Linked DNA regions of Homo sapiens. The protein of the gene in region 7 purifies or fractionates together with the protein of the main gene of each other region. This does not show direct contact. Each region holds a gene or a part of one and is shown on either strand. Other genes may lie near its edges. The genes, in order: MB21D2, PPIL4, ATG4C, EIF1AX, AMOTL1, AMOT and RAB3IL1.

Region 1 (3,500 bases), on a different chromosome or scaffold from region 7:
CTGAAAAGCCCTGAGTATGGGCATGCCAGAGGTCCGGAAGTACCCTCACATGCCTGTGAAGAAACACCGGGGTCCACAAGGAAGGGAACATCCCTATGAGTCATGAGTTGCAGTTTGCTGTTCCCAGTCAACAAGCTACAGCAATCACTATGGACATTTCTTATATTGCCCTAGGATAGGTCTTAAGGAATGTAGAAAAACTTGCCCTACATCCCTCTGCCACATAAGGAGATAAGATCAAAATTTTCTGGACTCCAGAAAATGATAAAGTATAACTCAATGGATTTTTAAAAATCATAAAGAGACAAGGTTAGAAAGTGCTAATTTCTCAGAGACTGCAATAAAAAGCTTCACTGGGAAGAGCTCTTTTAAAGAGTGACTCAAGTCACATCACACTTAGTGAGCACCTACTATGTGCATGACCCCCTGGGTGCTGCAAAGATAAATAAGCCAGGTATTCTTTAAAGCATGGGAAAGAACAGGCTAAGGGCCACAAAAGGGACCAGGTATTAGGAGGAAACACAGGAAAGGTAAATTTTCTTCTTTTTTTTTTTTTTTTTGAGACAGAGTCTCCCTCTGTCGCCCAGGCTGGAGTACAGTGACGCGATCTAGGCTCACTGCAAGCTCCGCCTCCTGGGTTCACGCCATTCTCCTGCCTCAGCCTCCCAAGTAGCTGAGACTACAGCAGCTGGGATGACAGACGCCCACCACCACGCCCAGCTAATGTTTCGTATTTTTTTTTTAGTAGAGACGAGGTTTCACCGTGTTGGCCAGGATGGTCTCGATCTCCTGACCTCGTGATCCGCCCTCCTCGGCCTCCCAAAGTGCTGGGATTACAGGCATGAGCCACCACGCCGGGCCAAATTTTCTTCTTCTCAAAGACATATAGGAAGGCTTCATGAGTCAAGTGGCATTTGAGCTGGGAGAAAAAAATAAAGCGGACATAAGGTGTCAGAAGGTCATCTGTAGAACCTGGGACATTTAATTGTTTCTGTGACATGGATCCTCTCGACAGACTGTAGAAGCCTATAGATCCCTGCAGAGAATAGCATATTTAAGTGAATATGATAACATCACACAGGATTTCCAAGAAAATCAGTATTAAAATACAAAATGCGGCCGGGCACGGTGGCTCACGCCTGTAATCCCAGCACTTTGGGAGGCCAAGGCAGGCAGATCACGAGGTCGGGAGATCGAGACCATCCTGGCCAACACAGTGAAACCCAGTCTCTACTAAAAATACAAAAAAATTAGCCAAGCATGGTGGCGGGCGCCTGTAGTCCCAGCTACTCGGGAGGCTGAGGCAGGAGAATGGTGTGAACCCGGGAGGCGGAGCTTGCAGTGAGCCGAGATCGCACCACTGCACTCCAGCCTGGGTGACAGAGCGAGACTCTGTCTCAAAAAAAAAAAATAAAAAATAAAAAAATAATAATAAATGCCTTTTTAAAGTAAATTTGTGATAGAGTACCCTATGTGATTATTAGTGCCTTAAATAATAAAATCTAGCAGCAAGTCTAATATCCACCATAATTTCAAAGCAGCAGTAAACATTTTTTGAGATATCTGCAACAACTGTAATGTGAAATAAAAATGCCTGGGATTTCTATTGGCAACAAAAACATACGAACCACTAATAACACTATGGTTTCCCATCTATATTTATAATGAAAGAAAATGCTATATTTAAGTTAGAGGTTAATACAAATAAAGATGTCCTTTTTTCCCCACTCAAGTTCACAGGTTCCATGCTGTTTCCATGGACCCAGGTTAGGGAACTCTGATGAAGAGCCTCGGCCAGACACGGTGGCTCACGCCTGTAATCCCAGCACTTTGGAAGGCCGAGGTGGGTGCATCACTCGAGGTCAGGAGTTCAAGACCAGCCTGGCCAACATGGCGAAACCCCATCTCTACTAAAAATACAAAAAATTAGCTAGGCATGGTGGCACGCACCTGTAATCCCAGCTACTCCAGAGGCTGAGGCAGGAGAATCACTGGAACCCGGGAAGCGGAGGTTGCAGTGAGCCAAGATTGAGATCGGCCACTGCTCTCCAGCCTGAGTGACAGAGCAAGACTCTGTCTCAAAAAAAAAAAAAAAAAAAAAAAAAAAGAAAGAGAGAGAGAGAGAGAAAAGAGCCTAAGAGCCTAAGCAAAGAAAGAAAGTGAGAAATTGGGGTGTATGTTACATGACAATGTAGAACATGCAGAGACAGGAGGCGGCATGGAAAGGTAGGTAAAATCCTCAGAAGATGGCAAATAAGGTAGGTAAAATCCTCGGAGGTCACCAATGTGAGAATTCATTACTCCCAATTATTAAATAATAGAATAGAGGTGGGGCGTGGTAGCTCATGCCTGTAATCCCAACACTTTGGGAGGCCAAGGTGGGAGAATCACTTGAGCCCAAGAGTTCAAGACCAGCCTGGGCAACAAGACCACCATCTCTACAAAAAAAAAAAAAAAAAAAAAATTTAAAAATTAACTAGGCATGGCTGTGCTCTCCTGTGGTCCCAGGTACTTGGGATGCTGAGGTAGGAGGATCGCTTGAGCCCAAGAGGTCAAGGCTACAGTGAGCCGTGATGGCATCATTGCACTCCAGCCTGGGCAACAGAGTGAGACCTGTCATTCATACATATATACATAAATAACAGAATGTGCTCTAAGTTCTAGAAATGCATCTTCTTTGGAATAAAAAGAGATGAATGAAAGAAGCTAGGAAAACATCATTCTACAAGTTTCAACTTATAGCTCCTCTTTAAAATGTAGAGGACAGCATATTGATAAATTTACTCCTAATAAAAGAGCATGGATCCCATACCATCCCTGTTATGTAAATGTACACATATGTCTGGGTATAAGCATATGTATAACACAGATGTTTAGAAGAAATGTGCATCAAAATATTAATGGTGATTCAAGTTTAGGAGTGATTTTACTTTTTCCTTTGCATTTTCTATCATTGGAAAACGGGCAGAATTAGGCCCAACATAGGTTAGGAGACTTAGGGTAAAACACATACCACATAGTACAAAACAGAGCTGGTACAAGAACTCAGAAATTCCCTTTTCTCTTACTATATAAAAACTTTCAGATTCAGAATTGAATGCACCTGAACACATGAAGTACATATAATGATTAAGCCCAACTTATATATTTAGAAACTGAGGCTTAAAGTCTGAGTGACTTGCCCAACGTCACACAGCAAATGTTAATAACTGGAGATTCAGAGGTAAAATCTGGGTCTCTTGGTCCTGAGTGCAGAATATTGTCCTTGTTAAAAGCCAGGGTTTTGTATTCATCCTGACCCAGGTTAAGTCCCACCTATGCCACTCACTTGCTGGTAAACTTGGATGAATTCCTATATTTTTCTAATTCTAGGGTTCACCACAGTTTTTTTTTTTTAACCTCAAAGTGTAATGGTGATGATTAAATGATACAGTAAAGTCCTATTAAAACCTGTGACATAGTAAACACCCTTGTCTCACTCACTATGCCTTTTTGTCTCT
Region 2 (3,500 bases), on a different chromosome or scaffold from region 7:
CAGTAAAGCTTTCTTGAACTATACAGCCTTTACTATTTGTTCATTCAGACAGTTGATGGTAATATAAACTTAAGCCTGGCCAACATAGGGAGATCCTGTCTCTACAAAAAAAATTTTAAAATTAGCAGGGCATTGTGGTGTGTGACTGTGGTCTCAGCAACTCAGGAGGCTGAGGCAAGGGCATTGCTTAAGCTGAGGAGTTGGAAGCTGCAGCAAGCTATGATCATACACCACTGTACTCCAGCCTGAACAACAGAGTGAGACCCTGTCTCTATAAAATAATAAATAAATAAACTTTAAAACAGACTACAAATCTGAAAGTTCTATTATATAAAATAGTAACTTTATTATCCATTCATTCCAATATTTATTATCTATGATATGACAGGTATGCCTATTCTACAAAAATAAGAAATGGAAAATAATACCAAGTAGGTCAATTAATCATCTACTGAATTATTATTCCCCAAATGACTTCAGGTTGTTAGTAATACAGAGAAGCAGTATATTTTAGAGTGCTCAGTTTCCACCCATTATTTTGCCCTACAACTACCATTCTGTTTAATCTTAACACTTGAGTGGTACAGTGAAGAACTATTCTTTAATATACATAAAATTCAGCCTGCTAAACACTCTTTAAGAATGAGATGAATATTAAACAACTGAAATTCAATTAATAAGTTAGAGATCCACTTCCCACTGTTTAAAAAGGCACTTAGCACTATATTGACAGTAGAGTCAAATTTATTTTCACAGTAGAGCCAATTTATTACTATGCCATACCAAATTTAAATCAGAAAAAAATCATAACTCAATTTTTAACATTTTAAGACTACTGAAGAGCCAGAAATAAACACTCAGTAAGTATTATTAGATATATTACAGAACAATTTGAACAAAGATAATTATCTTACCATCTCCAAAAGTATAGCCTGAGTTTTAGCCTCTTTTTCTGCCTTTATTTCTTCTACTTCCTCAGCTGATCTTCCTTTGAAATCATCAATTTCTTCATCTGCTCCTATTCGACCACTCTGTTAAGACAGAAGTTACTCATGTATATATTTAAAGAATAAAAAAATCTGAGAAACATAGAAGACATACTTTATTCTTAGTTATATCAAACATGCTAAAACAGTAACTGATCAAGGTTGCAGTGAGCTACAATCACACCACTGCACTCCAGCTGGGTGACACAGTGAGATCTTGTCTCTAAAAAAAAATTTTTAATAATTAATTGGACAGCAACTGAGACAAACTTATAAACCTCCAAGAATTGATTTATATTAATTCTAAAATATTAGCCAAAGTGGGCTTCTGTTAAAATCAAAATAGGCCAGGCATGGTGGCTCGTGCCTGTAATCCCAGCACTTTGGGAGAACACGCAGGTGGATCACTTGAGGTCAGGAGTTCGAGACCAGCCTGGCCAACACAGTGAAACCCTGTCTCTACTAAAAATACAAAAATTAGCTGGGCGTGGTGGCATGCACCTACAATCCCAGCAACTCAAGAGGCTGAGGCACGAGAATTGCTTGAATGAGGAAGGCAGAGGCCACAATGAGCCGAGATCCCACCACGCACTCCAGCCTAGGCAACAAAGTGAGACTCCATCTCAAAAAAATAAATAAATATTTATATGGACACTATTTATTATCCAATTCTAACTGCTGAATGAAGAGAAATGATCTGACAATTAAGCACCAATCCCAACCATAAAGACAAATTCAGCTTTCAGGAAGCCACATAAACCTTAAAATATGTGGGGGAACAGTCTGCGCTGTTTCACAGAAATTTCTGGGTTCTAGCCTGGCTCCAGAGTGTCCCCAGTTGAAAAGTTACCTCACAAGATAACAGTTTAATTTGATGACAAGAAAAACACTTTCCCAAGGTGTTCATGTAAGCTTCTAGAGCTGAGGTTGTCTCAGTAGAAAAGAAACTGAAGAAAGGAAATTAGAGAAATGAGAAGACAGCTAGAAAAATGAGTACCTCTGTGGAAAAGAAAAAGAACTCCAAACTTGTTGAATATAATTAAGCAAGATAATAATTCGGAAAAAATTAACTTTAACAGATGAAAAAGATAAATCCATACAAATCATTAATATGAATGTACATTTAATCATAAGAGGGCTTTACTTACATCTAATTGTTCCCTTGTAGGTTCTGGTGATCGATCAGGGATTAATAAATCAGGAGGGTCATCAAATGGATCATCTAAAATCACCGTATGATTTATCCTTACAAAATAAATCCAAATCAAATGTTATACATTGAAGTTATTTCAGAATCCTATTTTATTTTAATAGATTACAAAAAATTACTTGATTATCTCTAAGGCCAAAAAAAACCCATATTGCATATGGATATTACTAACCTAGATATACTTTCACAATGAGTGTTACTGTTTTGCATTGAGTGATACCATATTTATCACCCTGCATTACTTTAAGATGTAAACTAATATAACTGTCTAAATCTTAGTACTTTTGCCCTACTTCTCAATTAAAAAACTAAATTAAAGCATTAACAATTCCTCCAGCTGGGTGCAGTGGCTCATTCCTGTAATCCCAACACTTCAGGAGGCTGAGGTGGGTGGATCATGAGGTCAGGAGATCGTGACCATCCTGGCTAACATGGTGAAACCCCGTCTCTACTAAAAATACAAAAAATTAGCCAGGTGTGGTGGCGGGCGCCTGTAGTCCTAGCTACTTGGGAGGCTAAGGCAGGAGAATGGTGTGAACCCGGGAGACAGAGCTTGCAGTGAGCCAAGATCGCGCCACTGCACTCCAGCCTGGGCAACAGCATGAGACTCCGTCTCAAAAAATAAATAAATAAATAATTCCTCCAAACATAATTATAAATAATTAGTACAAGTATAAAAATACAAAAAGTCCTTTTTATTATAAAGATTCTTACAGTCTTATATTAATTCACCTTTTGGGATTAGAATTATCCAGAAACCAGTCCTATGCATACCGTTCCTATCCATACCACTACGTGTTAAACATCTCAATATTAAAACATTCTAGTACATTCAGATAGCAAATTGTAACCATACCTGATATCCTGATATGGTACAAAGTCCTTGTCAACAAAGGTCTCATTAATTTTCTTAATTATGTCCATGCCTTCTGTCACCTCACCAAACACCGTATGGACACCATCAAGATAATCTAGATTTTCTCCTGTGGTGATAAGAAACTATAAAGAAGGACACATAATAAATACCATAAAAATAATACATAACTCAAACTGAAATCAGTTACAGACTGACAAAAAAATACATGAAAGTTAAGAGTCCACATTTACTGCACCAATTCTTAGACACTTGTTACCAAAACTAAGTAAAAAGTACAAAGCTTATACTGGCATACCTCATTTTATTGCACTTTGCAGATACTGCATTTTTTACAATTAAGGATTTCTGGCAACCGTGTATTGAGTAAGTCTATTGGTGCCATTTTCCCAACAGCATAGGCTCACTTCATGTTTCTGGCTCACATTTT
Region 3 (3,500 bases), on a different chromosome or scaffold from region 7:
CCAAATATCAATGATGTTTCTACCTTAATGGTATTATTCTCTGTACTTTTCTGTAGTTTCCAAAATTTCATATAATCAAGAAAAAAATTACAAAAATACAAGACAAAAGAAAGAAAAAATAGTAACCTTGGGTAAAAATGGACAATCCCAGATGTTCTTTTTTCTCTTCTTTGACAGTGCTGAGATAAAGACTTTTGTATTTCATTATCAGACTGCTTATCAAACATCCAGTCTTGACTACCCAAAGGCACAATAAACATATTTACTAACATTTATGATACTCATAAGAAGATATCTTCAGAAAGTGGATGTTTTGATTATATGTTAAAATAGAAGTCTGACCATGGAAGTTTTAAATTTTTTTCAAAATATTTTCCTGTACGTTTCTTCAGAATAACTTAATCATTATTAACAGAGTAATAACAATTCTCTAATAGTTAATAAATGAAATCATAAAAGATCAAAGACCTTGAAAAATCAAATATATCCATTATGTCACTGTTTTGAATAACAAGACAATCCCCAAACATGCATGTAATTTTAAGTTAACAAAATAAGTCATAGATTCAGAGATCTAGTGAGGACTGAAAAATATTCCAATCCTTGCCCATGACTGCACAAGACTATAAATAAATCATCCCAGAAAACCAGTTTAAAAATTATTTTCCTTACATTTTCAACACCATTCTTCAATAAACATTCTCTCTAAATAATCTCATCAATAATCTCTACAAAAAAGTTACTAAATATATGCCATGCATTGTAGGGATACTGTCTTAACACTTATAAAAATCTGACAATATTTAATAATCAAATATGATATCTTAAAATTGTAAACTAAAATATTCTTACAAATGTACACATTATTAAAAATGGACTAACACAAAGGTGGCACATTAGGAAAAACATATATATGTAAGTTAAGTATCAATGACATTTTTTAGGGTCTAAAACTGCATGATTACCTTATTAGGAATATGTCTAGTGCCAGGCACAGTGGCTCACACCTGTAATCCCAATATTTTGGCAGGACAAGGTGGGAGCATCACTTGAGCCTAGGAGTTCAAGACTAGCCTGGGCAACATAGTGAGACCACATCTCTACAAAAAAATTTAAAAATTAGCTAACCATGGTGGCACGCACCTGTGGTCCCAGCTACTCAGGAAGCTGAGGCAGGAGAATAGCTTGAGCACAGGAGTTCGAAGTTGCAATGAGCTATGATTACATCACTGCACTCTAGCCTGAGCAACAGAGTGAGACCCTATTGCTAAAAAAAGTTTTTAATTTGAAAGAGTATGTCTAATTGATTTAATATAATTGAGTATAATCACACTAATAAAGATAAAAATACTTTTAAACCATTATTGACATGTAGGGAGAAAATAAAGAAACCAGAGTAAAGTCTCTTAAAATTTTAAAAATATTACATATGTCCTCAAAATCACTGTTACTAACCTGCCCAGGACTTAACTAAACTGGAGATAATCCAGAGTTCAACCAAAAGGAAAGAAACAGTAAGAACAATAAAATCCAAAGGGTACTAAAAATTGAACTAACTTAACTCATAATGGTGACCAAGAATAACAGGTATATTTAACCTGCATTTTTGAAAAGGGAATCAGGGAAGTTTACATATAAGTCATATCTGACCCAGTTCAAAAAAAATGCAATACACCAAATTAGTTACAACTCCTTAGAAAATCTCACAGTCAAGAAATTAACCTCAGGGAATTTCATGCAGTTTGTAAGCTGGAATTCAAATGGAAAAATATCGACGACAAAAAAACAAAACAAAACAAAACAAAAACAGAAATTTGATTTACCTCTACCAAGAAAGTGTAGTATGAGTCCTTGAGCCAAGAGCATCTGGCCAGTTCTCAATGTGCAGCCCCACCCACAGTCTGTTGTCAAAGCTGAGCCTTCTATTTGAGGGAATTCTTCCCTGTAGGTCAGCCATATTCTAGAAATGAAATCTTTACGAAATTCTTCTACATTTCCTGCAATTACGTGATCCTCTATTGTACATCCCGACTCTGCAGGTAACGTTTTATCTTCATCTAAAAAATAAACATACGGTCTAAAGATAACCAGAGAAATGTCTATAATGGTAACAAACATTATCATTACTGTCTTAAGATGTGAAGTATGTCACAATCTTTCCAATCCTTTTTTTCTAATTTTATCTTTTAAAATAAAGATATGAAAATCAAGTTAGATTTTCCTGACTGCCTATGAAAATCAAGTTAGAATGAATGCTGAAATGTTTTACATACTGTAGAGTTAACTAATATAAGGTATTATCAACAATACTCTTGTTATTAATAATAATATCCTATATTCTATACATAATTAACTCTTTGAAGAGGGGACACAGACAAGGACGATATTAGATTTCTCACTGGAAACAAAAGAAGAAGATAGTGCAGCAACATCTTCAAAGTAGTGAAGAAAAAAAATCATTAACTCAGAATCCTATATGCAGCAAAAACACCTTTCAAAAATAAAGGCAAAATAAAGACGTTTTCAGATACACAAAAGCTGGAAGAAGACATCACTAGCCAACCTGCATTAAAAGAAACCTTAGCCAGGCATGGTGGCTCACATCTATAATCCCCAGCACTTTGGGAGGCTAAAACAGGAAGATTCTGGCTGGGCGCGGTGGCTCACGCCTGTAATCTCAGCACTTTGGGAGGCTGAGCCAGATGGATCACTTGAGGTCAGGAGTTCAAGACCAGCCTGGACAACATGGTGAAACCCCATCTCTACTAAAAATACAAAAATTAACCAGGCATGGTGGCAGGCACCTGTAGTCCCAGCTACTCGAGAGGCTGAGGCAAGGGAATCGTTTGAACTCAGGAGGCAGAGGTTGCAGTGAGCCAAGATCGTGCCACTGCACTACAGCCTGGGCAACATAGTGAGATCCTCATTTCTAAAAATAAATAAAAATTAACCAGGTGCGGTGCAGATACTTGCGAGGCTGAAGTGTGAGGATGAGGATCACTGGAGCCAGGAGGTTGAGGCTGCATTGAGCCATGATTAAACCACTGGTCCAGATGGAAATACAGATTCACACAAAGGAATGAAGAACACCAAACATGATACCTTCTTTGAAGGATATTTGACTATTTAAACCAAAATAATAGTAATTTACTATGGGGTGGATAACATATTAAGTAAGATGTGTGGGGTGTATAACATATAAATAAGTAAAATGTATGACAACAATATCATAAAGACCAAGAGGGAGAAGGTGAAGTATACTGTAAGGCTCTTGGTATATCACTTGAAGGCAGACTGTGATAAGTCAGAGATGTATACTATAAACCTTAAACCACTAAAATAACAATAAAAAGTTATAGCTAATAAGACAACAAAAGAGATAAAAGAGAATGATAAAAATACTCAATCCAAAAGCAGGTAGAAAGGGAGGAAAAGAAAACAAAAAAAAAAGATTTAACAAATAGAAAGCAAATAATGACATGATACATTTAAACCTAGCT
Region 4 (3,500 bases), on a different chromosome or scaffold from region 7:
AGGAAAAAGAATTCTTATATTCCAACAGTCTACTCCATATATAAGGGAGACTTTCACCTCCTTAGGCTATGTGAGAAACAAATCCAGTTTGAAGAAGAAATTCCTATAATTCTGGCCTGCTATAAGTAAATCGTGATGATCTCCTTTGTAATGTTACATGTTATGCAAAATATTCTTAATAAAATTTACTGTCTCCTTCCTTTAATGCTTGTAATTTGAGATTTTTGTATCTCATGGATGGGAGCAGACACAGGAAGCATGATATGATTGATCCCGTTCAGTGTGATACTGACCTAATTCTCCTGAGTCAATCTGGTTATAGTTAAAACATCTATAAACCACCTGGAGAAATGTCTCAAAGAGTAGGGTTCTCAGGTGACAGAGCCAACTTTTACAAAATGTTCAAGAGAACTCCTTTAATAATCACTCTTTACCATCCCTTTTCCAGCCAGCCAGCTGGGTCCAGTTCTGAGGAGGCGTTGGCCCAGATCCAGAAATTTTTACTGAGAAAATCTTGACCACGCCTAGATTCTCAACCCATTATCTTGGTGCATGCGGCTTCATATCCATGCATGTTCTCTGGTTAGGTTCCTTAATTTTTTTTTTTTTTTAAAGAGGCCTTCTACCCCTGCTCAGATGTCAAAATGTTTGGGTTGGCGCTTAATCCACATGTCAGCTGCAAGCTCTTATTTACCAAAGAATAGAATTGTTAATTCTATTGTCAAAATATTAGTAACAGTTTAGTCGTAAGACTCCTCTTGGCTCAGGGTCTCCAAAATTAAGAAAATAACAGAACAACATGTTTATTTCTCACTTCCTATTTTTGTGTACATGTTAAAATGTCTATAATATTAGTAATTTAACTCACAGTGTGAGTATTCTTGGTCAGGAACAACTGCTCTAGGTATTCCGAAATTCCATCTTTGCATCAAATTTAACGTTATTATGTTATTTATGTAGAGACAAAGTCTGGCTATGTTACCCAGGCTGGTCTTGAACTCCTGGGCTCAGGTGATCCTCCCCTATCAGTCTCCTGAGTAGCTGGGACTATGGGTGCATACCACCACATCTGACTTATTATTGTTTTTGGGTTGAAATACACAGGTGGTTTCTGAACTACATTTTAGTTAAAAGAGGTTTGAAAAGAAGAGCCCAAAACAGATTTAAGAGTAACACCCTAATCACTAAATAAATTTATACTGCCAAAAGATTAAGTTTGAATTTCATTCAATTACAGTAACAGCAGAAGTGCAGTAAAGCATTTACACTTATGGGCATTACTACTTTATTATTAGGAAAGACAATCCATTTTCCTCAAAATAAACATACCAACTGCAAACCAAGAGTTTGCCAACAGTACACACCCAACAGCTAAAAATACCATAATTGGCAATAGGCTTCCATTTTGACAAGGCTTTCAGTGTATGTTGTAATTCCAATGCTTCATATCAAGCTGGTTCAAACAAGATTCTTTCAACACACTAATATTTCAATTAAAAAGGCATGTTCCTTTGATAAGATCTATTTTTCAACTGTCCACTAAATTTCTTAATGGCTATCTCTTTAGAGACTCTTAATTAAACAAGTTATGATTAGAGTGGCTGGCGTTAATATTGCCAATGCAAACACTGACCTTTTCAGGAAGAGAAATTGAAGAGGGTTATAAGAATTCTCAAAATAGGGCCGGGCATGGTGGCTCACGCCTGCAACCCCAGCACTTTGGGAGGCCGAGGAGGGCAGATCACCGGAGGTCAGGAGTTCGAGACCAGCCTGGCCAACGTGGTGAAACCTCGTCTCTACTAAAAATACAAAAAATTAGCCAGGCGTGGTGGCACGCGCCTGTAGTCCCAGCTATTCAGGAGGCTGAGGCAGGAGAATCGCTTGAACCCAGGAGGCAGAGATTGCAGTGAGCTGAGATTGTACCACTGCACTCCAGCCTGGGTGACAGAACAAAACTCCATCACAAAAAAAAAAAAAAAAAAAAAAAAAAAAAGAATTCTCAAAATATAAACAGTTTGACCAGGTGTCTTCTAAATAATATTATTTAATTCAGACAATTCTCAAAATACAACCTTATTTAAGTGTCCCATGTTCTTAAAATTAATGGATGTTAGGGGAAAGTTGGTTTCTCCATGGATAATAACAAAAATTGGAAAACACAAGGTACATCTACTTACGTCATCAATATCTTCATCATCATCTCCAATGTCATCAAACTGAATTTCATCATCATCTCCAGGACCAAATGTATCAGTTTCATTGATTTTAGCTAAGGACACAGTAAGAAATACTCATAAGTCAGCACTGTAATTTACTCAAAGTTTCATCATAAGAGCATTCCTTTTATATAAGACAATAACTATAAAGAATATTTTATGAAAAAAAATTCCTGCAGTGTCACTGCTAAGTCAAGATGGGAGTATCTGTGTTACCATTTTCTTTTGTTTGCAAAGGTATTTTTAGTAAGGAAGGCCCTAATTACACTAATTCTGAAGCTATTATAACTTTCAGGTATACTTCTCAACATACAAGGAAATATGGTAACAACGTATTTCCTTAAGAATAGCTGGTTCACTAATCATCAGATAGACTCATCAATCAGAAAGATCTGGTCAAATCATGATTACCCCTAAGCAATGAAAATGAACCAGGAAGCGCTAGTCCTATTCCTATATACATTAACATTTCTTAGATCAGAAATGCTAAGTAATTTCAGCAGGACTTTCATGCTTAAGTAAAATATAACAAAATTATGTTTTTTCTTAAGATACAACAGAGCCAAAAATAATAACTGCCAAGTGAAAATGCAGGCCTACAGAACAGTATGTCAAGTACATTTCCCCTTTGATGAGGTTATAAGGGACTTATTTTTAGGTTTTCTGCGTTAAGAATTCATTACTTTTGTATTTGGAAGGGTGAAAACCAAGAAATGTTGCTTTTAAAAAATCCTATGGGATACTATTATACAACGATAAAATGGAAATATAACTTTTTAATAAAAATCAGTAATGAGGCCGGGCATGGTGGTTCACGCCTGAAATCCGAGCACTTTGGTAGGCAGAGGTGGGTGGATCATCTGAGGTCAGGAGTTTGAGACTAGCCTGACCAACATGGTGAAACCCCGTCTCTACTAAAACTACAAAATTAGCCGGGCATGGTGGTGCATGCCTGTAATCTCAGCTGCTTTGGAGGCTGAGAATCGCTTGAACCTGGGAGGCAGAGGTTGCAGTGAGCCAAGACTGCACCACTGCACTCCAGCCTGGGCAAAAGAGTGAGACTCCATTTCAAAACAAACAAACAAAATCAGTAACTGTACCTAATTACTTGCCCTTGCTTCATGGTTTTTTTTTTTTTTTTTTTTTAATTTTTTTTGAGACAAGGTCTCACTTTGTCACTCAGGCTCGAGTATAGTGGCATGATCATAGGTCACTGCATCCTTGAACTCTTGGACTCAAGCAATCCTCCCGTCTTGGCCTCCCAAGTAGCTGAGACTACAGGCA
Region 5 (3,500 bases), about 33 Mb from region 7:
CAAACTCAATTACTTATAGATGAACAAACTCCATTCCAAAGGGTAAGCATCTCAGTCCAGGCCCAATTTAAAGGGGCTATGTTTTAAAATGGTCATTCTTAACATGTGTTTCCAGTACCAGCAGCATCAGCATTGCTTGGAAACGTGTTAGAAATGCAAAGTCTTAGGCCCTATCCTCAATCAACCAAGGAAACAGAAACTCTAGGGGTGCGGCCCAGCAATCCATGTTTCAATAAACCCTCTGGGGTATTCTGATGCTCAATCACATTTGAGAACAACTGTCCTGGAATTGTACATCTAAGACCCAATTAATTTCCTCTGAGAAGTAAACAACTTGGTCATCAAGAAGGAAACAGAGCTGCCAGTTATGAAATTTGAGACACGGCCTGGTGACATCAGCCCTGACTTACTGCACCTACAGTACCAAGCACCATAAACTCTGAACTAGCCTTCTGAATGCAGACCCACCTCCTCCTGCCTCCTGTGCTCAAGGGCACAGAGGAAATCATTCTTTCATCAGAAATCATACTTTTATAGAAGCAAAGAAAGGTTTATTTTATAGATAGTAATAGATTGTGAATAGGGCATCCTAGCTTCTATCTCATTCACTAAGTAGTATTCACAGCGCTCCCAACTGTGAAAAGGAACACTTCCATGAGTAAGAACAGGGGTTCCAGGTTCTCAAAGAAGACGGATACATGCGAATTTACGTAACATTATAAAGTGTTTTGCTTCTCTGCTGTTTTAGTAATAATAATGGTAGCAGGTATTTATTGAATGCTTTCAACGTGCCCAGCATTGTGCGCATTGCTTCACTTTGCCCTCATGCAGCTCCATGAGGGAAGAACTATTATTTTCCCCATTTTACTCATGAGGCTTCAGCATGTACAATTCCGAGGTCACACAGCAAGGAGGCGGCAGGGCCAGGATACACCTGTTCTCAATCCAAAATACTACCTCTCCTTTTTCATTTTAACATATACATAACTCTTAATCTATTCAACTTCATTCATACTGTTTATGTTACTGAGTTTTAAGTACTGTGTTTTCACCTTCTTTTAAGCTATCATGCCATGTACTGTTCAAAAAGGTCCTCAACCACTCAGTTTATGCCAACTCAATCAGCATGTGCTCAAGAATCAGAGTAACACACTCTAAAGAATTCATGGCAATAAAGATCTAAAAACTGGATCAAAAGCAAACCAATTTTATTCCCACCATGGTTGGGCAGCATGCCCAGGGAAGCCCTCCCTGACCGCCTGGACCAAAGTGAGCCCTCTCTCCTCAGAGCACCCACAGTACATCACATGTGTCCCCATCATAGTAGTAACACATGGTAATGTCCACATGCCACACCCCTAATCTGTGAGCACTTCAGAATGGGAACTACACCTGATAGTCCATCTGTGCATATTCGAGACCTAATAGATGGTTTATAAGCTCAGCAGCAAGACATACAAACTCTTAAGACAGACAAAAGTGAACTATAACTTAAAAATAAAATGTAAAACTATAAAACTTTTAGAAGAAAACACAGCAGAAAATGTCTGAGACATGGGTCTAGGCAAAATGTTCTTAGATGTGACACTAAATGCACCATCCTTAAAGAAAAAAGGAATCTATCAACTGGACTTTATCAAAATAAAAAACTTTTGATCTGCAAAAGACCTTGGTAAGGACATAAAAAGACATGCTACATACTTGGGAAAATATATGTGCAAGCCACAAATCTGACTAAGGACTTGCATCTAGAATATATAAAGAACTCTTAAAGCTCTAAAGTAAAATAAATAATCCAGTTAGGGAATGGGCAAAAGGCATGAATAGTTATTTCGCCAAAGAGGATATATGGATAGCAAATAAGCACATAAAAAAGACAGACATTAAACATAATCAGCCATTAGGGTAATGCAAATTAAAACCATGGTAAGATTAGAGCACCTACTAGAACACCTATTAGGACAACTAAAATAAAAAATAGTGATAACATCAAATGCTAGTGAGGTTGCAGAGAAACTGGATCTCTCATACATTGCTAATAGGAGTGGTGCAGCCACTCTGGAAAAGTTTGGCAATTTCTTAAAAAACTAAACACACACTTACCATACAATCCAGCAATCACAATCATGGGCATTTACGCCAGAGAAATGAAAACTTATGTTCACACAAACACCTATATATAAATGTTCATAAAAACTTTATGTGAAATAGTCATGAACTGGAAAAAACCCATAGGTGAATGGTTAAACAAACCATAGTACATCCATATTATGGAATACTACTCAGCAATGAAAAGAAACAAACTATTGAGAGATGCAAAAATTTGGATGGATCCCCATGGCATTATGCTGAGTGAAAAGCCAATCTCAAAAGCTCACATACTACATGATTGTATTTATGTAACATTCTCAAAATGATAAAATTATAGATATGGTGAACAGGAGTAGTGGTTGCTAAGCATTTAGCAACAGAGTGAGGATGGGGAGAAGAGGGCCAGTGCAACTATAGAGGTGTAGCATAAGGGAGATCATTGGGGTAATAAAATAGTCTGTACCTTGATTGTGGTAGCGGTTACATGAATCTACACATGAAAAAATGCATAGAAGTACACACATAGAAATACAAATTTTACATGTGCATGTAAAACTGGTGAAATCTGAATATGCTCTGTGGACTGTACCAATGTCAATTTCCTGGTTCTGCTACTGTACTATGGTTATGTAAGATGTTACCAATGGGGGAAACTGGGTGAAGGGTACACAGGACCTCTCTACTATTTTTGCAACTTCCTATGAAGCTATGATCATTTCAAAACGAAAAGTTAAAAGTAAACAGCAGACATTTTACTTAAAAACAAAATGAAAAAATAGAGGTATATAGCTGCAATATTGGCCAGTGAGGTCTCAAACACAGGTTTAAACACACACCATAGAACGACAGTTTTTGAAAACTTAAATCTAATTCTTCAGTATCTTAACAGGGATACATTTCCAACACCTTAGAGCTACTCTCCTACTCTCTCCTAAAAGATGGGGGGAAAATGCCTGATGTGTGAGCCCCTTTAGGAGTCCAGGAGTCCTGTCCTGAGTGTCCAAAATGAATATACCCTAAGGTTACACAAGGCCTGGCCGTGAGAGCAGAGCCAAGGGCCTCACAAGTTAAAGTAGAACTCAGCTTGATGCCAACACATAAACCAAGAGCAGGAGTGGCTTCCTTCCAGCAAAAGTAGAGGACTGCCCTACCCACAATGGCCAAGATTTACATTGTACCTCTCCTTCAAGACAAAACAAAGCCAAGCCAACAAAATTAACTTTAAAAAAATCACTAGGCAAACAAAAAAACAAAACAAAACATAAAACCACAACAACCTCAGACTATTTCCAACAAACCTTGTAATCAAATATCTCCCTTTACTTGACCTCCACACTACCCCTTGCTTTTCGAGGATTTTATTACCTACTAAATTCTGAGTCATAAGAACCTGCCAAAATTAATGAAAA
Region 6 (3,500 bases), on a different chromosome or scaffold from region 7:
GGAGGATAAAAAATATGTATCTTCCTGTAAAATACATGCAGCTAAATTTCTCCGGTGGTTTAATCAGGATGGGAAGAAAAGGAAAAAAAAAGAAAACCTCTTTGGGCTCCTCATTATTTATTTAGGCAGATCAAAGGGCAGATAATTTTCCATCTAGCTTCAAACACTGTGGGAGTCATTTCAGATCACAAACAATACTGGTGAATGAGTTCTGAAAATAGCTTTCCTGGGAAGGCGGGCTGTGTGCTGAGTGGGGCTGTGGCTTCTGCTCCACACCCCAGCCAACACACTCCCCTCCCACAAGGCAACAGACATCAGCCCATCAACAGACTCTTCCATACTGATGGGAAAAGCAAAATAAAAACCCCCAGCTTCATTGATATTTTGCTGGCTTGAATGGGTTTCCACTAAGTGAGGCAGTCTTGAACAGACCAACCCCTCCCTGGGTCTTCTGTTTCATTGGTCAGATGGGAATCTGGTTCTTGATCTCTTTTAAACCTGAGTAGCCTTGTTGGTTACCCCATTTCCTGTTCCAAGACACTGATCAGAACATAGGCTCCTGCCCTTTGAAAGCTGCACAGAGGAGGTTGAAAAGGGTTAGGAAATCAACCTGGGTTAAGAGGGAAAAAAAAAAAAAAATCCTAAACTGGCAAAGTTAGAGGTGGAGTCCAAAGTGAATTGCCTCTGGCTACAAAAACAGGACCTGCAGGGGAAAAAAAAGAAATACCAGGAAATGCTAGGTGCCTTCTCTCACTTTCACCCTACTCCACCCCATGACTGCCTTCTCTCCTGAGTCACTCAATGAACTTCAAGCCAGAAGGTTTTTTCCAAAATGAGCAAGTAGGGTACAGGAGACAAAGAGGTAGACATCAAAGGACATCACAGACCTAGTCTGTGAGCCGCATATAAATGAAGGCCAGCCTAGGACCAAGCACTTCAAACCTGATGGTCACCCATCATTACTCATGGCCATGAGGCAGGATACCACACTTAAATGCCACCATCGGTCCCCATGGTTTAAACCTTTTCTCCTGCCCTATATGTGGAAATACTACTGATCAGAGACATGGCCCAAATACTAACAACAGGAACAATGAACAGAATCATAGAATCATAAGGTCTAGTGAATATAGCAGTGGGACAATGGACCTCTGAATAATTAAGAAGTATATATAGGAACAACTAAATATATAAGACAGAAATGGTAATATTTTTCCTTCTGTATTTTAGCATCTGACCAAAATTTCTATATGATGTGATGGGAATTTAACTCAGAGGTTTAAAAATGTGACAGGCAACTAATAAATTCTCTACAAAAAAAAGATACAACAGTCCAGATTTCATAAACTGCAAGCATAAGGCAAGTAACATTCTGAACCTACATACATACATAGCTCCCCCACCATAACATCTGGGTGTTTGTTTAGTCCAAAAGAATAATGGTAATTCTATGGAAAAATGGTAACTGACAAGAAATACACAGATTTGTTTGCAAAAATAAATGATGAAAGCTTCATGGAGGGGAATATGTGCAAGTGATAGGATGTTCCAGACTAATTAAAGTGCAAGGTAATTTGCTTCTACCTCTCAAGGAGGGCTTATGAGAAACACAGACCCCTTCAACATCCTAGGAGAGAGGACAGCAAATAGCTGCTGAAAACAAGACTTTTGCTCCTGTTCGTCCACTAGGCAGTTGAGGCCATGCTCAACCTACAAAGCTAAGGGATTGTTAATACAGTGCTAATTATGGCTAAAGAGGATACAAATTCGGGTTGGCAGGCAATTCACGAAGCCAGAGGCCTGTCATGCATTGCAGAGTTTGTTATATCAAACACCTGCCCGTTCCTTCCCTAAGATTCCCAACACACAGCAGAAGCTGGTTGGGGATGAGGTCAGGAAATGACAGAAACAGAACTCTCTTACCTGGCTGCTCCATACTCAGGGGGATGCTGATACCTCATCAGTTGCCCCTCTGTTCTCCCTGGCTGGTTCAGGCGATGCTCACTATAGAAGTGCCCTGGCTCTTGGGGCTTGCACACTACAGATTGGGGTGGCATGCCCTTGAAGGGATATTCTGGTGGGGGGCCTCGGTGTTCCATGCCCTTCAGGCTATGCTGGTTAGGAAGTGGCCCTTGGGCCTTGTAGAATTCACTGGAACTTGTGGGATTCTTGTAGAGGTCATTGGGTTGTGGTGGGGAGAGGGGAGCACTGGTAACAGGTGGATGGGCCTTAACTCCACTGGTGGCCAGTGACATCTGCATTAGTCGTTCACTCAAGGAACGGACATGCCCTTGCTTAAGGTCTCTGAGTCCCTCATCTTGGTGCATCTTTCCAGGATTGAGCCGCTGAACTGATGGGCGTCCCTCAGTCCTCATCTTCTGGTTGGTGACTCCAGTGACATAGAAGGCAGCTCCAACACTGGCATGCTGTTGGCCCCGAAAGTACTGGGACTGGACCTTGGCTTCTTCATAGGTCGGGAGTTCTTCATTATTTTGCATTCGAGGAGACAGCTGCTTCTCCATGATGAGGTTTTCTGACTGGATTTCCTGCCCCTGGGGTTCTTGTCGAGCAGCATGAGCCACAAGCTGTTGGTGGTGGTCTTGGGGACTCAACACATCACTCTGAGGGCCCGGGTTCCCACTGCCACTGGGGAAAGGAGGGCCATTCCCTGTGGCTTGCTGGTGTATGGCAAGCAGGCTGCGATTCTCACTAGGATTGCCATAGCGAAGCTGCTCTTGTAGCAAACGCTGCAATACCGTGGTCCCTCCACTTGGCTGTTCTTCAGAATTTCTCATCTCTATTGCTGGTGGTGCCTTGTGAAGAGAGAGAGAAATTGGGCACCTGGGCTGCCCTTGACCTGGGAAGGGGAAACAGGAAGCTTAACACCCAGTTGATGGATAAATCAGTCCTCTAAAGGGAAAGAAAATGGATATTGGAGGGTGAGGATTCGATTGCAGAAACAAAGTAGAGAATTGACTCTAAAATTAATAGATTGTTGGGGATTCCAGGCCCTAGCACTGATATGATGAAGAACATGGAGGCATAAGAGCTCTAGGTTTTCTCTTTCACTTTTAGCATGAGTTAAATATTCAATCTGGACTTAACTCCTAAGAATGCTTGAGAAACCTGGAACAGTCAACTAGGGTAATCAAAGGGGGTAACTTTTCAAGGTCCATATTCACAGGCTTCATCTCTCTGTATTCTATTTAAAGCAAAAACCCAAATCTTATGGCTGTGGAGGTGGGGGCAGGACAGTGGGGAAAGTTACCCCATAACAGGATTTGTAAAGCAGCTCAGCATATGAAGGCAGCTACAAAATGCAAAATAAAGACTCAAATAAATAAAAGGTGAAGAGAGCTTGGCTTGCACCAGACAGTAATGATCCCTGCCTCGATGCAAATCTTTTTCTCTGATCTCATAAGGCTCTGAAACATCTTTTTAAAAAATCATTTTCATAGTCTCCATTTTGGATGCTCCTTGGCTTAATAAGAGAAGGACTT
Region 7 (3,500 bases):
AGGTACACCGGCTGGGCGCGGGAACAACTTGGGGAATGGGTCATCTGGGCGTCCGTTGGCTCCTCACCACTCACGCAGGGACTGCCTTCTTCCTAGGAAGCTCACAAGATGGTTCGAGAAGCCAACATGAAGCAGGCGGCATCAGAAAAGCAGCTGAAGGAGGCTCGGGGCAAGGTGAGGCCCATCCCCGCCTGCCCAGGCCAGCCCAGGCACCCCCCCTGCCTCCCGGCTCAGCGAGCACTGAGCTTTGCTGCCCGAGTGGACGCTCACCTGGCCCGGTGGGGCCAGCAGGAATGGGTGAACCTAGGCCCAGGGAGGGAAGGGAAGGGTGGGGGTCTGAGATCACAGGGCCCAGTGTCCCGGGGCTCCATCAGTGATTCTGCTGCATGGCAGAGCCTTTTCTGGGATAGTGCTGGGGCTGGGAGGACCCTGTGATTATTGTACCTTCTTCCCTCTCCTCCCAGCCCCACTTTACAAAGCAGAAACCTCACTCAGTATGGCTGTCTGAGCCTGGGCAAGTCGCTTCCTCTCTCCAAGCCTGGTTGCCCATCTGCAAAATGTGAGGCCTGGGCCTTTCCTGGCTCCTGGGGGCGGTCCCAGAACTCTCATGGGAGGCCCAGCCAGCTCCCAGACACTTGTTCCTAACAGAATCCTGCTCACAGAGTGACCTTGGGCAGGCCATGTCGCCTCTGTGAGCCTCAGTTTCCCTATGTGTAAAACGAGTGTCTGGGTCTCTGCCTCGAAGGCTGTTCTGAGGGCGTCGGGTGGGACTAAGTGCCTGTCACTGCAGGGGTGCATTGTCCTGAGTTAGGCTGATAGGCGGTGGCAGCCAGGATGGCATCCAGTCTGGGTGAGGGTTGACAGCCATCCCATCCCATGCAGATCGACATGCTGCAGGCAGAGGTGACAGCCTTGAAGACGCTGGTCATCACGTCCACACCAGCCTCTCCCAACCGCGAGCTTCACCCCCAGCTGCTGAGCCCCACCAAGGCCGGGCCCCGAAAGGGCCACTCTCGCCACAAGAGCACCAGCAGCACCCTCTGCCCCGCCGTGTGTCCCGCTGCGGGACACACCCTCACCCCAGACAGAGAGGGCAAGGAGGTGAGGGTGGGAAGCGGGCTCTGGGCACGGGGAAGGGTGGCAGTGCCTGCGGTAGGCAGGGTCCGAGCCCAGTGAGGACCAGCCTGCCCCATGCTGTGTGACCTGGAGCCTGTCCTGCGCCTCTCTGGGATGTGAGGGCTGGGCAGGTCCTTTCTCTCCAACCTCCTGTGATCTGAGGCACTTGGCCTGCAGCCTCCAGGGTATACCATCTGGGGACCTGAGGCCCCCTCCCTGCCCCACTGACTCCAAGCAGTAGGTAGTGGTCTCTGCACCTGAGGCTGGCTTTGGCCCTGAGGATCTGGGGCCTCCACTGAGACACACACTTCCTTGGCCTTAAGAGGCCAAGCAGCAGCCACTGGGCCTCAGGGGAGAGGCTGCCTGGACCCCGTGTGGCCACAGCCTCGAGCCCCAGGACCACCTGGTGACAGCCCTGTGCTCAAGGGGTTTCTGGCACCCTCTGACTGTGGGGCTGAGACAAGCGTGGCCTTTGGAGAGGTGTCTCCGTCCCACCTCAGCTGGCCACACCAGTTGCTGGGCCCAGGCTGGGCTGACACTCATGGTCATGGGTCTGTAGGCAAATGAGGCCACCTGTCAGCACCTCAGCTTTCTCACCTGATAAATGGGGCCTCCCGGGGCTGCTGGAGGAACCAGAGACAGGGACATCAAGAGCTGAGTTCAAGGCTGCACCCAGGTAGTGCCTCAGAGGGCTGTGGTGCCTTCAGCTTCCTGGGTCCCTGGCGCCAGCCCACTCGACTCCATCCTGGCTTCCACCTCTGTCTCCAGGGCCTCCAGGGAAGACGAGCAGGCCCTCATCCACCTCCTGAGCTCTGAGCTTCTGAATGTACATTAACTTCTCCCCTTCCTCCTGTTCTGTCTCTGTGCACCTGTCTACCTGTCTGTCTGTCTGTCTGTCTGTCCATCCGGCCCAGCCCGGGCTGGCCCCGCTGCTCTCCCTGCTCCTCTGCGTGGTCCCCAGCAAGGCGGTTCACCTCACCTACGAGCCGGCCTGGCCGCTCCCACCTGGGGAGCCCCCAGCCCCTGCCTCCACTCCCTCTCCCTCCTTTTCCCGACAGGTAAATGGCTCCAAAGAGGGGCCTCCCACTTTGCCCCCTCCCAGCCTCCCTCATTCTGCATGTGGCCTGGAGCAGGCCAGCAGTCACCTCTGAGGTGTGGGCCCAGGGCAGCCTGTGTGTGTCCCCTCCTGTGTGCACGTGCTTGTGTGTGCTTGTGTACCTGCTGGTACCTGTGGCCTCCTGCTAGTTGCTCTTTGACTTTTCCTCCTCAAGGAGGCACTGAGGGTCTTCAGGACAAAGCCCTGCACCCCACTCTAAAATCCAGTAGCGCCAAGAAATTTAACACCGGCCTGGAAACAAAACTTTTAGTTCTAAATTCTTTGGTGCAAAGGGCAGAAGGGAGCTCTGCTGCTGCTGGACTTGGCTTCCCTGCACGGCTGCTGGGGATCGACCTGCTGGCTTGCTGGGCCTGCCCCACGTCCTCCCTCGCTCCCCTTCAGCTCAGCCTGCATCTTCTATGCTGGCCCCAGTACCCTGACCGCCCCCACCCTCGCTTGCCCTCCCCCACAGGTGGACACAATCCTGTTTGCAGAGTTCCAGGCCTGGAGGGAATCCCCCACCCTGGACAAGACCTGCCCCTTCCTGGAAAGGGTGTACCGAGAGGACGTGGGCCCCTGCCTGGACTTCACAATGCAGGAGGTGAGGCATGGCAGGGGCGGGGCCAGCTGGGGGACACACCCCTCCGCCAGGGCCCAGCCCCTTACCACCCTGCCTGCCTCCCTGGTCTGCCACAGCTCTCGGTGCTGGTACGGGCCGCCGTGGAGGACAACACGCTCACCATTGAGCCGGTGGCTTCGCAGACGCTGCCCACAGTGAAGGTGGCCGAGGTTGACTGTAGCAGCACCAAGTAAGCTGAGGGTCTTAGCTCCTTCCTGCCCATGTGGGAAAGCCCCGCCAAGCCGTGTGTTTACTGTGCCGAGGGGTGGTCAGGATGCAGCAGCGCCGACAGGACAGGGACAGTTGCTGCCCCCACAGGGCAAGGAGGCAGTTTGGCAGGTTTCCTGTGGACCCCCAGGCTTTCCAGAGAGGCCGGGAGCTAGGGTCTGCCTCTTCCTGACTGGTCTGCTCTGTGCCCTCCCCTTCTTTTCTTGAACCATGATTATCAGTTGCTGGCTGTGCCCCTGCCAATAAATAACGACGCAGTAGCCCTGGCATTTGTCCTCCAGCTACTCACCTGGCATTGAGCAGGGGAGCAGCAGAACAAAATAGCCAGGGTGGAGCAAGGGGCAGAAATTGGGGAGGATTTCACCTTGGCAGCCAAGAGCCTGGCTGGGGATGGCTGGTGCCCTGGTGGGAGGCTCATCACGGAGAGGGAGCATTTGAGCC

What was found.
Region 1: the proteins of RAB3IL1 (region 7) and MB21D2 purify together in Homo sapiens (affinity purification with mass spectrometry, with the first as the bait; one large-scale study listed by BioGRID). This does not show direct contact.
Region 2: the proteins of RAB3IL1 (region 7) and PPIL4 purify together in Homo sapiens (affinity purification with mass spectrometry; 2 studies listed by BioGRID and IntAct, with this or other methods). This does not show direct contact.
Region 3: the proteins of RAB3IL1 (region 7) and ATG4C purify together in Homo sapiens (affinity purification with mass spectrometry; 3 studies listed by BioGRID and IntAct, with this or other methods). This does not show direct contact.
Region 4: the proteins of RAB3IL1 (region 7) and EIF1AX purify together in Homo sapiens (affinity purification with mass spectrometry, with the first as the bait; one large-scale study listed by BioGRID). This does not show direct contact.
Region 5: the proteins of RAB3IL1 (region 7) and AMOTL1 purify together in Homo sapiens (affinity purification with mass spectrometry, with the first as the bait; one large-scale study listed by BioGRID). This does not show direct contact.
Region 6: the proteins of RAB3IL1 (region 7) and AMOT purify together in Homo sapiens (affinity purification with mass spectrometry; 3 studies listed by BioGRID and IntAct, with this or other methods). This does not show direct contact.

The regions. Positions count from the first base shown.
Region 1 is NC_000003.12:192,907,857-192,911,356, forward strand, and holds part of MB21D2 (nucleotidyltransferase MB21D2), read right to left. Parts: intron 1-3,500. UniProt on the Homo sapiens protein: Probable nucleotidyltransferase that catalyzes the formation of cyclic dinucleotide second messenger in response to some unknown stimulus.
Region 2 is NC_000006.12:149,532,544-149,536,043, forward strand, and holds part of PPIL4 (peptidyl-prolyl cis-trans isomerase-like 4), read right to left. Parts: intron 3,196-3,500; coding exon 3,053-3,195; intron 2,232-3,052; coding exon 2,135-2,231; intron 1,032-2,134; coding exon 915-1,031; intron 1-914. UniProt on the Homo sapiens protein: PPIases accelerate the folding of proteins. It catalyzes the cis-trans isomerization of proline imidic peptide bonds in oligopeptides.
Region 3 is NC_000001.11:62,815,132-62,818,631, reverse strand, and holds part of ATG4C (cysteine protease ATG4C), read right to left. Parts: intron 2,058-3,500; coding exon 1,824-2,057; intron 1-1,823. UniProt on the Homo sapiens protein: Cysteine protease that plays a key role in autophagy by mediating both proteolytic activation and delipidation of ATG8 family proteins.
Region 4 is NC_000023.11:20,128,339-20,131,838, forward strand, and holds part of EIF1AX (eukaryotic translation initiation factor 1A, X-chromosomal), read right to left. Parts: intron 2,270-3,500; coding exon 2,178-2,269; intron 1-2,177. UniProt on the Homo sapiens protein: Component of the 43S pre-initiation complex (43S PIC), which binds to the mRNA cap-proximal region, scans mRNA 5'-untranslated region, and locates the initiation codon. This protein enhances formation of the cap-proximal complex.
Region 5 is NC_000011.10:94,771,356-94,774,855, reverse strand, and holds part of AMOTL1 (angiomotin-like protein 1), read right to left. Parts: intron 1-3,500. UniProt on the Homo sapiens protein: Inhibits the Wnt/beta-catenin signaling pathway, probably by recruiting CTNNB1 to recycling endosomes and hence preventing its translocation to the nucleus.
Region 6 is NC_000023.11:112,820,332-112,823,831, forward strand, and holds part of AMOT (angiomotin), read right to left. Parts: intron 2,858-3,500; 5' UTR 2,796-2,857; coding exon 1,924-2,795; intron 1-1,923.
Region 7 is NC_000011.10:61,904,067-61,907,566, reverse strand, and holds part of RAB3IL1 (guanine nucleotide exchange factor for Rab-3A), read left to right. Parts: coding exon 1-2; intron 3-96; coding exon 97-174; intron 175-464; coding exon of another isoform or gene 465-559; intron 560-882; coding exon 883-1,101; intron 1,102-2,684; coding exon 2,685-2,813; intron 2,814-2,908; coding exon 2,909-3,021; intron 3,022-3,500. UniProt on the Homo sapiens protein: Guanine nucleotide exchange factor (GEF) which may activate RAB3A, a GTPase that regulates synaptic vesicle exocytosis. Promotes the exchange of GDP to GTP, converting inactive GDP-bound Rab proteins into their active GTP-bound form.